Homo sapiens: one gene and its partner. The protein of the gene in region 1 interacts with the protein of each later gene in a biochemical or structural test. Each region holds a gene or a part of one and is shown on either strand. Other genes may lie near its edges. The genes, in order: GNRH1 and MEP1A.

Region 1 (2,814 bases):
ATAAGCCTTTGGGGATCACTTAGGACAGCTACCTCCCAGATACTGTGGGGCTTACATTCCTGACTCCTCTGTTACCTCCTGTGGTAGGACCGTGTTTCATGACAATCCCAGTTGGTGGTTAGACAGCACTAGGGGCTGAAACGTTTTTTTGTTTGTTTGTTTTTTCTGAAGTTGAATTGAAATCTCTCTGTAACTTTTATCTCTTAATCCTGGTTCTAGCTTTTGGGATAACTAACAAAACAAATTTCTTCCCACTGCTGCATTTCATTTCTTCAAGTAAAATCACCAAACCCCCTAGACTACTCCACTCCAGGCTACTCCACAGCCCTCCACCTGATCCTGCAACTGTGCTTTATCTTACATGGTTTTCCAGAACCTTGGGGAATAGAGACATGAGAAACACTGCTGTAGATGGGTTTTTTTTTCTCTTCTTTGGAATGAAAAATGCCAAACTACTAAATTTATAATTTAGAGAGTGATGGACTTGATTTCCAGTTTCCTGATAGGACAATAATCACCTCCAAATTCCGCCCCCCAAAATGGAAATACACTAATCATATTAGGTTTTTGATGAAAAAGTATAAAGAGAATTGAATGTATAAATTGAATCTTTTAAAAAAATTATTTGTTGAGACAGGATCTTGCTCTGTTCCCCGGGCTAGAGTGCAATGGTGCAATCAATGCTCACCACAGCCTCAACCTCCCAGGCTCAAGCAATTCTGGAGACTAGATTAGCCTCTCTAGTAGCTGGGACTATAAGCACTTGCCACCACACCCAGCTGATTTTATTTTTTAATTTTTTGTAGAGACAGGGTCTATGTTGCCCAGGCTGGTCTCAAACTCCCAGCCTCAAGATCCTCCCAAAGTGCTGGGATTAAAGGTGCAAGCCACTGTGCCTGACTTAAGTTGAATCTTGGATTCAATGTTGATATTCTCTGATCTCTATTGTCCACTTATCTGCAGCAATCAGAAGGCATTACAGTTAATGATCAGTTATGCCTAGGAGCTGGGAAAGCCCAAATAAATCATATATAAAAATAAGCTGTAATTTTAATTGTCTACAGTGACTTCAACTTAATATACCCACAGAACAAAGAAAAAAGTGGGCAGACGTCGTTATTTCCTTTTTCGTTTTTTTTGGAGTGCAGTGGCGCAATCTCGGCTCAATGCAACCTCCATCTCCTGGGTTCAAGCGATTCTCCTGACTCAGCCTCCCGAGTAGCTGAGATTACAGGCATGAGCCACCACACTGGACTAATTTTTGTATTTTTAGTAGAGATGGGGTTTCACCATGTTGGCCAGGATGGTCTCAATCCCTTAACCTTGTGATCCGCCCACCTCGGCCTCCCAAAGTGCTGGGATTACAGGCATGAGCCACCACGCCCAGCCTATTTCCTTTCTTTTTCTAATCTTGCTTACTGCATTACAAAAATGGCAAGCAGTGAAATTTGTCAAACATGACATTATGAAGAAATTGAAGCAAAGGCTGGTTTAATAGCAAAGTAATTGACCAGACTTTTTTTTCACTTCCTTCCTCACAACTCATCCTTAAACTATTAATGTAGATTTTATGTATATTAAGTGCTTAAAAAGACCCAATCGGCCAGGCACAGTGGCTCATGCCTGTAATCCTAGCATTTTGGGAAGCCGAGGTAAGTGGATCACTTGAGGCCAGGAGTTCAAGACCAGCCTGGCCAACATGGTGACACCCTGTCTCTACTAAAACTATAAAAATTAGCCAGATGCGGTGATGCATGCCTGCAATCCCAACTACTAGAGAGGCTGAGGCACGAGAATCATTTGAACCTGGAAGGTGGAGGTTGCCATGAGCTGAGATCATACTACTGCACTCCAGCCTGGGTGACAGAGTGAGGTTCTGTCTCAAAAAAAAAAAAAACCAGAAAAACAAACCCAATTTATCATGTCTCCCTAGCACTAACTAGAGCACAAAATCAAACAGACCAATTCCTTCCAGACTGATATTTTAGAAATTAAAATGTCAAAATGTAATGAAATTCAGCTGGTAAAGTCAGTCTTGATATATTTGTTATATATTTTTCAGGAAAGTCTGATTGAAGAGGAAACTGGGCAGAAGAAGATTTAAATCCATTGGGCCAGAAGGAATGACCATTACTAACATGACTTAAGTATAATTCTGACATTGAAAATTTATAACCCATTAAATACCTGTAAATGGTATGAATTTCAGAAATCCTTACACCAAGTTGCACATATTCCATAATAAAGTGCTGTGTTGTGAATGAAGTGGCATACCTGTTAAATCTTTCTCCAACTCAGAACTCCGGGGGAAGGATCACTGTAAACCCACCAAAGGGAGCCCTCCATGTGTGTATACAGGTGGCAGATGGGAGGGCAGGTAAGATAAAGTGTCTGTTGTTGACAAAAGGGATCTCAGGCTCTCCAGCACCCATACCCTGCATCTACCCACAAGCAGAACAGCCACATACTGGTCCAGCCAGAAAAAGCTGATTCAGCTCCAGTTTCTCTGGGATTATAACTTTATCTTCGACCATACTCTTCAGAAGTTGAGGTGGGGCCACGGCCAAGGCTTTCTTCCACTTGGAAAGAAGTTCCCTCCCTTGATCGTCTCCAAACCCTTTGAAAGTTTACTGGAACCCAAATGAGGCCTGGGGGTAAGGAGAGGGGGCCTCCAAGGACTCCTAGTCCAGCGCTCCTTCTGGTCCCACGCAATCTATCCAAGTGGTGCACACTGAGGGTTGGGACTGAGACCTAAAAAATAATAGAGTGTTCATCTGCTTGATCTGTTTGGTTTGCATTTAAGAAACACAATGG
Region 2 (7,310 bases), on another chromosome or scaffold:
GAGTATGCCTGTGTACGTTCCCTGGGAACACTGTATGAAAGGTTTTTTTAAGTAGTCTGTTCTGATACTGGTTTGTCAATGAAACTTTTCAAAAAGGTTAGTTGAATATCACTTAGTGTTGTTTATGTGATATTCAACTTAAGACAGTCGCAACCAATTTGAATAGCTTTTAAGTTTTGCAAAATGTATATTTTGACCAAAACACTTACACACAAAATGTCTCCATATGCATATCTGTATATAATATATGTTACATACATAATGCTTATATACAAACTTACATGAAAAATGTTGGCATACAACTATGTGTATGTACACACACATGCACACACACACGTTTTTACTGAGGCCAGGACTTCCTTATAGAAGACAATTCTGAACTAACAGGGATTAAATTTGTCTCAAACAATCGTAGTAGCATTATTGCCTGACTGATTTAGGGCAGCCCTGTGGAAGCATGTAAACGAAACCATCTTAATAATTTCATAGATGAATTTCTGCCTATGTGGTATAGCCTCTTGGGTCTCCTTCCCAGTGCCAGATTCCCCCATCTCAACCTCATTTTGACATCCTATATTAAGAAAAAACAAAGCAGGTACTAATCAGCAAGAACAGAATCCTATTCTCTTGACAGAATTCCCATGATCTATAACCTGCTGGATAAATAGTTCAAATCCTATATCTCTGTTCCTATTCCTAGACTTTCTGGCACCTATTACCCTTCAAGTCCATGTGTCTTCCACTAGGCTGCCATGCTCTCCGCAGGAGAGGGCAGCTGCCTAGATTTGTATGTTACAGAGGTGGTCGTGTGCCTTCTCTACCTCTCTCCTGTGTTCCCATGTAACCTACCTCTCTCCTGTGTTCCCATGTAACCTAACCACACAGGCCATAATCAGCTCCACCCTAAGAAACAGAACATTGTTAGACCTGTCCCTTGAAGTTGTACTTAGAGAGAATGGCCTGAAAACACAAGGGAGATTAAAGGTCTTTTCCTTTTCAGGGAAAGTATAGTTCTATAAGTAGATATCTGGTTAAAAGACACAGAAGAAGGAAAAAAGACACTCATCTGTAGGAACTCAGTTTAGCCAACATGACTTCCACTTGGAAGCATTTTTCCTCTCCTCTTCAAGCCCAACTCTAGGGAATACCCTGTGCAAAAATATCAGTGTAGGCACATCTCTTTGCGGAATTGAGTTGCTTTGCTTTCGCAGTTTCCTCTCTCCAGTACCCCCAAGCTCCTGTCTGGCTTCTTATACTGTTCAACCCAGGATCCTATGTTCTAGAACGGCCTTCTCACCATCTTTCCTCAGCTCTTAATTCGAAAGTCCCACTTCTAGTTCATGCTCAGAGAAAAAGCAAGTAGACCTAATCTTTATTAGAACGTGCATTTCCAGACAATAGTACTCTATTTGGCTTACTTTGCTCCCCTACATGGTGGACTTTCAGATAATATAAGGAAGAGAAAAAAGTCTAGATGTTGGAGAGGGAGTCAGTTTTAGGTAGGGAAGATCCAGTCAGTCCTACAGGTTATTATCTGCTCTTCAGCATTCCTTATAGCTCTCTGGCAACAAGTGACAGGTCGGACCATATGGAGTTACTATTTTTTTTACTTTTGGCTTAGAAAATGGCTATTTTATATGATTCAGCCTAACACTTGGGTTTTCTTTGCTAACCTTAGGGGTTACAGTTGAACCAGCCAACTCAGGAGGAAATCCAGAACCTGGATTCTTATAGTGGAAAACAAATTCACGGTTAAGATTTGAATGTGAATTTTAAAATAAATCATAGTATTTTAAAAAACAATTTTTCCTTATTAGGTATGTAACTTTGGAAAAGTTACTTAACCAGTTTATAACAGTACCTATTTTATAGGGCTGTTGTGAGGATTTAATGAGATAATTTATGGAAAGCACATGGCACTGTGCCAAACTCATAATAAGTACTCATTAAGTGTTGGTCACAGTTCTCACCAGCCTTGTTCTCTGTCCTCAGGAGATGATGACCACAATTGGAAAATTGCCCATGTGGTGCTCAAAGAGGAACAGAAGTTTCGCTACCTTTTCCAGGGCACAAAAGGCGACCCTCAGAACTCAACTGGGGGAATTTACCTAGATGACATCACTCTGACAGAAACCCCCTGCCCCACAGGGGTCTGGACAGTCCGGAATTTCTCCCAAGTCCTTGAGAACACCAGCAAAGGGGACAAGCTTCAGAGCCCTCGATTCTACAATTCGGAGGGATATGGTTTTGGGGTAACTTTATACCCAAATAGCAGAGAAAGCTCTGGTTACTTGAGACTTGCTTTTCATGTGTGCAGTGGGGAGAACGATGCTATCCTGGAGTGGCCGGTAGAAAACAGACAGGTGATAATTACCATCCTTGACCAGGAGCCTGATGTCCGGAACAGGATGTCCTCAAGCATGGTGTTCACTACCTCGAAGTCGCACACATCTCCAGGTGGGTGGTGTCAGCGCAAATAAGAACTGCCCCTTGAACCAGAGAGGCCCACAGATGTGATTCTGTGGTGCAAGAAAGAGTAACGTTCTCCTCACATTGTCTGTTTGGGAATACCAATAACATAGTCTTGTTGGAGTTTCAAGTCAAGATTTTCAATGCCATCACATCCTCCTTCCCTTTCCTAAATTCACTCATCAAACATCTATTGAGGGCTTACCATGTGCCAAAGTCGGTGCTAGGTACTTAGAATACAAGTGAATCAGGTGATCCCTGCCTCACTGAGCTCGTTGTGATTGAGGAAATAGATACTGCTAATCATTTATCAAATACTTGGAACTTGCTGGGCTCTGTGCAGAGCTAATGTACTTACTCCTAAAATAGTACTCAATGTTACTATGTTCATGAAGTAAACTTACATCAGTAAAGAAATGGGCAAACTATTTTTTTTTTTTTTTTGAGATGGAGTCTCCCTCTGTCGCCCAGGCTGCAATGTAATGGCGCATTCTCGGCTCACTGCAACCTCCACCTCCCAGGTTCAAACAATTCTTCTGTCTCAGACTCCCGAGTAGAGATGGGGTTTCACCGTGTTGCCCAGGCTGGTCTTGAACTCCTGAGCTCAGGCAATCCACCCGCTTTGGCCTCCCAAAGTGCTAGGATTACAGGCGTGAGCCACCACGCCTGGCACTAATTTTTTTTTTTTTCAAAAGAGAAGACTTAAGCCTTAGAAGAAAGAAGCCGTAGCTGTCCCTCTCTTTTCATTAAGAAAGTCGCTCAGTAGCAGACAACTGATCACTCAGAGCTGTGATTCTCTGCCTCTCCCATCTTTCAATTCTGAATTGCAATTCTCCTGGAAATAGTAAATAGCCTAATTTTTTTCCAACACTTTTTTTATTTTTATATTTATTTATTTATTTATTTATTTATTTATTTATTTATTTATTTATTTCTGATTCACAAAGCCCTGTATCCTCATTAAAGACAAACTGGAAAGTGAAGTCTAAAGAGGTAATGTGATTTTATGTTACCTACAACTTTGCAGCGATAAATGACACTGTCATCTGGGACAGGCCGTCCAGGGTGGGAACCTATCATACGGACTGTAATTGTTTTAGAAGCATCGACTTGGGCTGGAGTGGTTTCATTTCCCACCAAATGCTGAAAAGGAGGAGTTTCCTGAAAAATGATGACCTCATCATATTTGTGGACTTTGAAGGTACTTTTGTTGGTCTTCCTGAGTAAATAATCCTATGCTCTTGGCACTCTACTGATTTTATCCTGATTTTTAAAGCACACACGGAGGGTGGGGATGAGGTTAAAACAATGTGTTGTAGGAGAATCACATTTTATTCAATTGGTCAAGGACTCACATCTTTATTTTAATTGTCCTTGAAAGAAACTGAAATTTTAGTGTCATCTTTTTGATAATTTTATCAGAGGTAACCGTTCACTGATTTCAATTTAGTTTCCATCAGCCTATCCATGCTAATTTTATGCTTCATTTTGCAAATTCAATAAATAAAAATGTGACTGGATTACTTTAAAATAAAAGTAGCTAATACTGTGGGAATCAGCTGGATTCAAAGCCACTTTTCCATGTCACTAGGGGTGATGGGAGATAGAAGCAGGCTGGGGAACTTTCACCAGAAGTGGGAGTTAATTGTAGTCAGTTACTAATCCTGGATCTTCCTCATGACTCTCTATTTCCTGAAGATATCACCCACCTCAGCCAGACTGAAGTTCCCACTAAAGGCAAAAGACTGAGCCCCCAAGGCCTCATTCTCCAAGGCCAGGAGCAGCAGGTCTCCGAAGAAGGTTCGGGAAAGGCCATGTTAGAGGAAGCCCTACCTGTCAGCCTGAGCCAGGGGCAGCCCAGCCGACAGAAGCGGTCGGTGGAGAACACAGGCCCCCTGGAGGACCATAACTGGCCACAGTACTTCAGAGACCCATGTGACCCAAACCCTTGCCAAAATGACGGCATCTGTGTGAACGTGAAGGGGATGGCGAGCTGCAGGTAGGCTCTGTGGCTGGGGAGACAGGCAGGCCAGCAGACCTGGGCCGTGTGCATGCTTGCTCCTGGTAAAGGCTGCTGTTTGCAGAGTAGGGCGAAGACTACCTCAGATGGTCAACTGAATGCGGTTTTCTTTGACTCTACAAAGGTGTGCCCTGGATTCATGGGCTTATGCTGCCAGGACAGAGGCTTCCCAGGTCACCTTGTCTCTTGACTTTCACCCCTTTTCCCCTCTTCTGGGGTATTGTCAACAGCATCTTGGATGTTGTTGGAATTTCTAACTCTAACAACACCCAAGATGGCTTCTAGCCTAGGGACTTTCTACTCCATGAGGGTGGGTCTCAAGACCAAGCTTAAATCTTTGCTGACTACAGATGTTATTAGTTCCTAATTATTATTAGTTCTATAGTCTGTCATTTACACTGTACTATTATTACAGTTATATTTTCAATAATAGTAGTAAGAACACCTGATATTTCTGACCCCTTGTTATGCATCATGTAGTCTCCTGAGCATCTTACACGCATGATCTAAATTCATTCTCACTGCCACCTGTGACATAAGGGCTCTCCTTATCCCCGTTTAGTGTGTCAAGAAGTTGAAGCTTAGAAAGATTAAGTAATTTATCTAAAATGTACCCAGATGGAAAATGCTGAAGCTGGGACTTGCATCTAGGTCTGTCTGGCAGCACAGTTTGCTATATTTTATAGTTCTTTTTATAATGTTTGCTTGCATAAAACCCTAAAAACTGTTTCACAAAAGGAGGTATGTGATGACAGAAGCAACAGTTCCATTTGAACAGTAGCAGATGTAGAAGCTATTCTGCCTGCCTCAAAAATTTACATTTCTTCTGAGTTCTTTTTAGTCTCCTTTTTTTTCTCTTTTTGTAGCTTTTATTTTGAAATAATTTTAGACTTACAGATACAATGCAAAAATACTACAGAGGTTTTCTCTATACCATTCACCCAGCTTTCCCTAATGTTAGCATATTACACAAACCATAGTACAATTAGCATAGCCAAGAAATGAACATTGGTACAATGCTAGTAAATAAATTACAGGCCTTATTCAGCTCTTCCCAGTTTTCCCACTAATGTTCTTTTTCTATTTCAGGATCCAATTCTGGATCTCACATTACATTTAGCTTTTATGTCTCCTGTCTCCTAATCCCCTCCAATTTGGGACAATTCCTCAGTTCTTTCTTGTCCTTCATTACCTTGACACTTTCGAAGATTACTGGTCAGGGATTTTTTTTTTTTTTTTGGTTCATCTTGTTCTTACATGATTAGATTGAAGTTTCACATTTGTGGCAAGATTAGTAAAGATGTGCTATGCCTTCTCGCTGCAGCGTGTGAACAGGTACATGATGCCTATACATGTCATTACTGGTGATGTCAACCTTCATTATCTGGCCAACAGCATGTCCACCAGGCCTCTCCACTGAAGAGTTACCATTTCTCCCTCTGTAATTAATACGTATATTGGGAGAGATATTCCAAGACCATGGAGACATTCTGCTTTTCCTCAAATCCTCACACACTAATTTCAGCATCTGTTGACACATCCTGCTGCAATACTCACCACTGAGATCTTCTAATGTTGATTTCCTATATCCTTCACATTCATTAATTATAATCTCCTGTAAAGAAGAATGGCACCTTCACCCCGTTAATTTGTTTATGTGATTGTTTATTCACATCACGAAGGAATCATAAACATTAATTTTATTCAGTGGGCTCTGTTGCAATAATTTCATGATTTATTTTGTTGCTTCTATTGTCCCAGCTTTGGCCTTTGGGAGCTCTTCCAGGTTGGCTCCTGTGCTCTTTCAACATCAGATTTTATGAACACAATGTTACTTTCTGGCACCATAACATGCTCTAGGCTCATCTTTAATTTTTCCTGCCCCACCCATAGAATCAATCACTCTTCCAAGAAGCCCTCTGGTTCCTTTTACTGGGGAAGGCCCATCTGTTTCTGGGCTCCAAAGCCATAGGTCTGCATATCTTTGCCTGACAGGCCCTTAGATGCCAGATTCCATTATGTGTCCCCAACAGGCTTCATCCTTCCCAGGCTAAGGGAGGCCAGGGCTGCCACTTGTATGTCAGCCTCCACTCAGCCAAACTATTGCTCTCCTAGAAACCTGCAGCTGAGAGTTGGCAGAATAAGTTTTTCTAAGGTAACACTAGGGGATATCACTAAGTTGTGTTTGGAGAGGACTGGGTCAGAAAAAAATGAAATAAACTTGCTATTACTCACTGATTTCTAAGAAGTCAATTCTCAGGATAGAGATGAGGCCTTGGAAGGTAAAATCATTCAGGATTAGTAAAAGAAAATGCTGACTTCTTATTTTTTTTTTTTTTGAGACAGTTTTTGCTCTTGTCACCCAGGCTGGAGTGCAATGGCACGATTTCAGCTCACTGCAACTTCCACCCCCCGGGTTCAAGCAATTCTACTGCCTCAGCCTCCCGAGTAGCTGGGATTACAGGTGCCCACCACCATGTCTGGCTATTTTTTTTTTTTTTTTGGTATTTTTAGTAGAGATGAGACCATCTTGGCCAGGCTGATCTCAAACTCCTGACCTCAGGTGATCCACCCGGCCTCCCAAAGTGCTGGTATTACAGGCGTATGCCACCATGCCCAACCAGAAAATGCTGACTTCTAATTGTTTCACTCTGCTCTGTAGAATTCTGCTGAGTAGACCTTCTAGTAGGAATGTTTGAAACAAAGGCTGGAATTGTTACAAAGGTATGGATGAGACACTACAAGTTATATGCCTTGGTTATGAGATTAGTTGATCTTTATACCAGATAACATTAAGAAACAAAACTAAGGGCTGGCCATT

The links.
Region 2: of the proteins of GNRH1 (region 1) and MEP1A, one has a biochemical effect on the other in vitro, tested with the Homo sapiens proteins (one study listed by BioGRID).

The regions. Positions count from the first base shown.
Region 1 is NC_000008.11:25,418,709-25,421,522, reverse strand, and holds the end of GNRH1 (progonadoliberin-1 isoform 2 preproprotein), read left to right. Parts: intron 1-2,062; coding exon 2,063-2,104; 3' UTR 2,105-2,265; downstream 2,266-2,814. UniProt on the Homo sapiens protein: Stimulates the secretion of gonadotropins; it stimulates the secretion of both luteinizing and follicle-stimulating hormones.
Region 2 is NC_000006.12:46,831,082-46,838,391, forward strand, and holds part of MEP1A (meprin A subunit alpha precursor), read left to right. Parts: intron 1-1,992; coding exon 1,993-2,457; intron 2,458-3,496; coding exon 3,497-3,670; intron 3,671-4,167; coding exon 4,168-4,468; intron 4,469-7,310.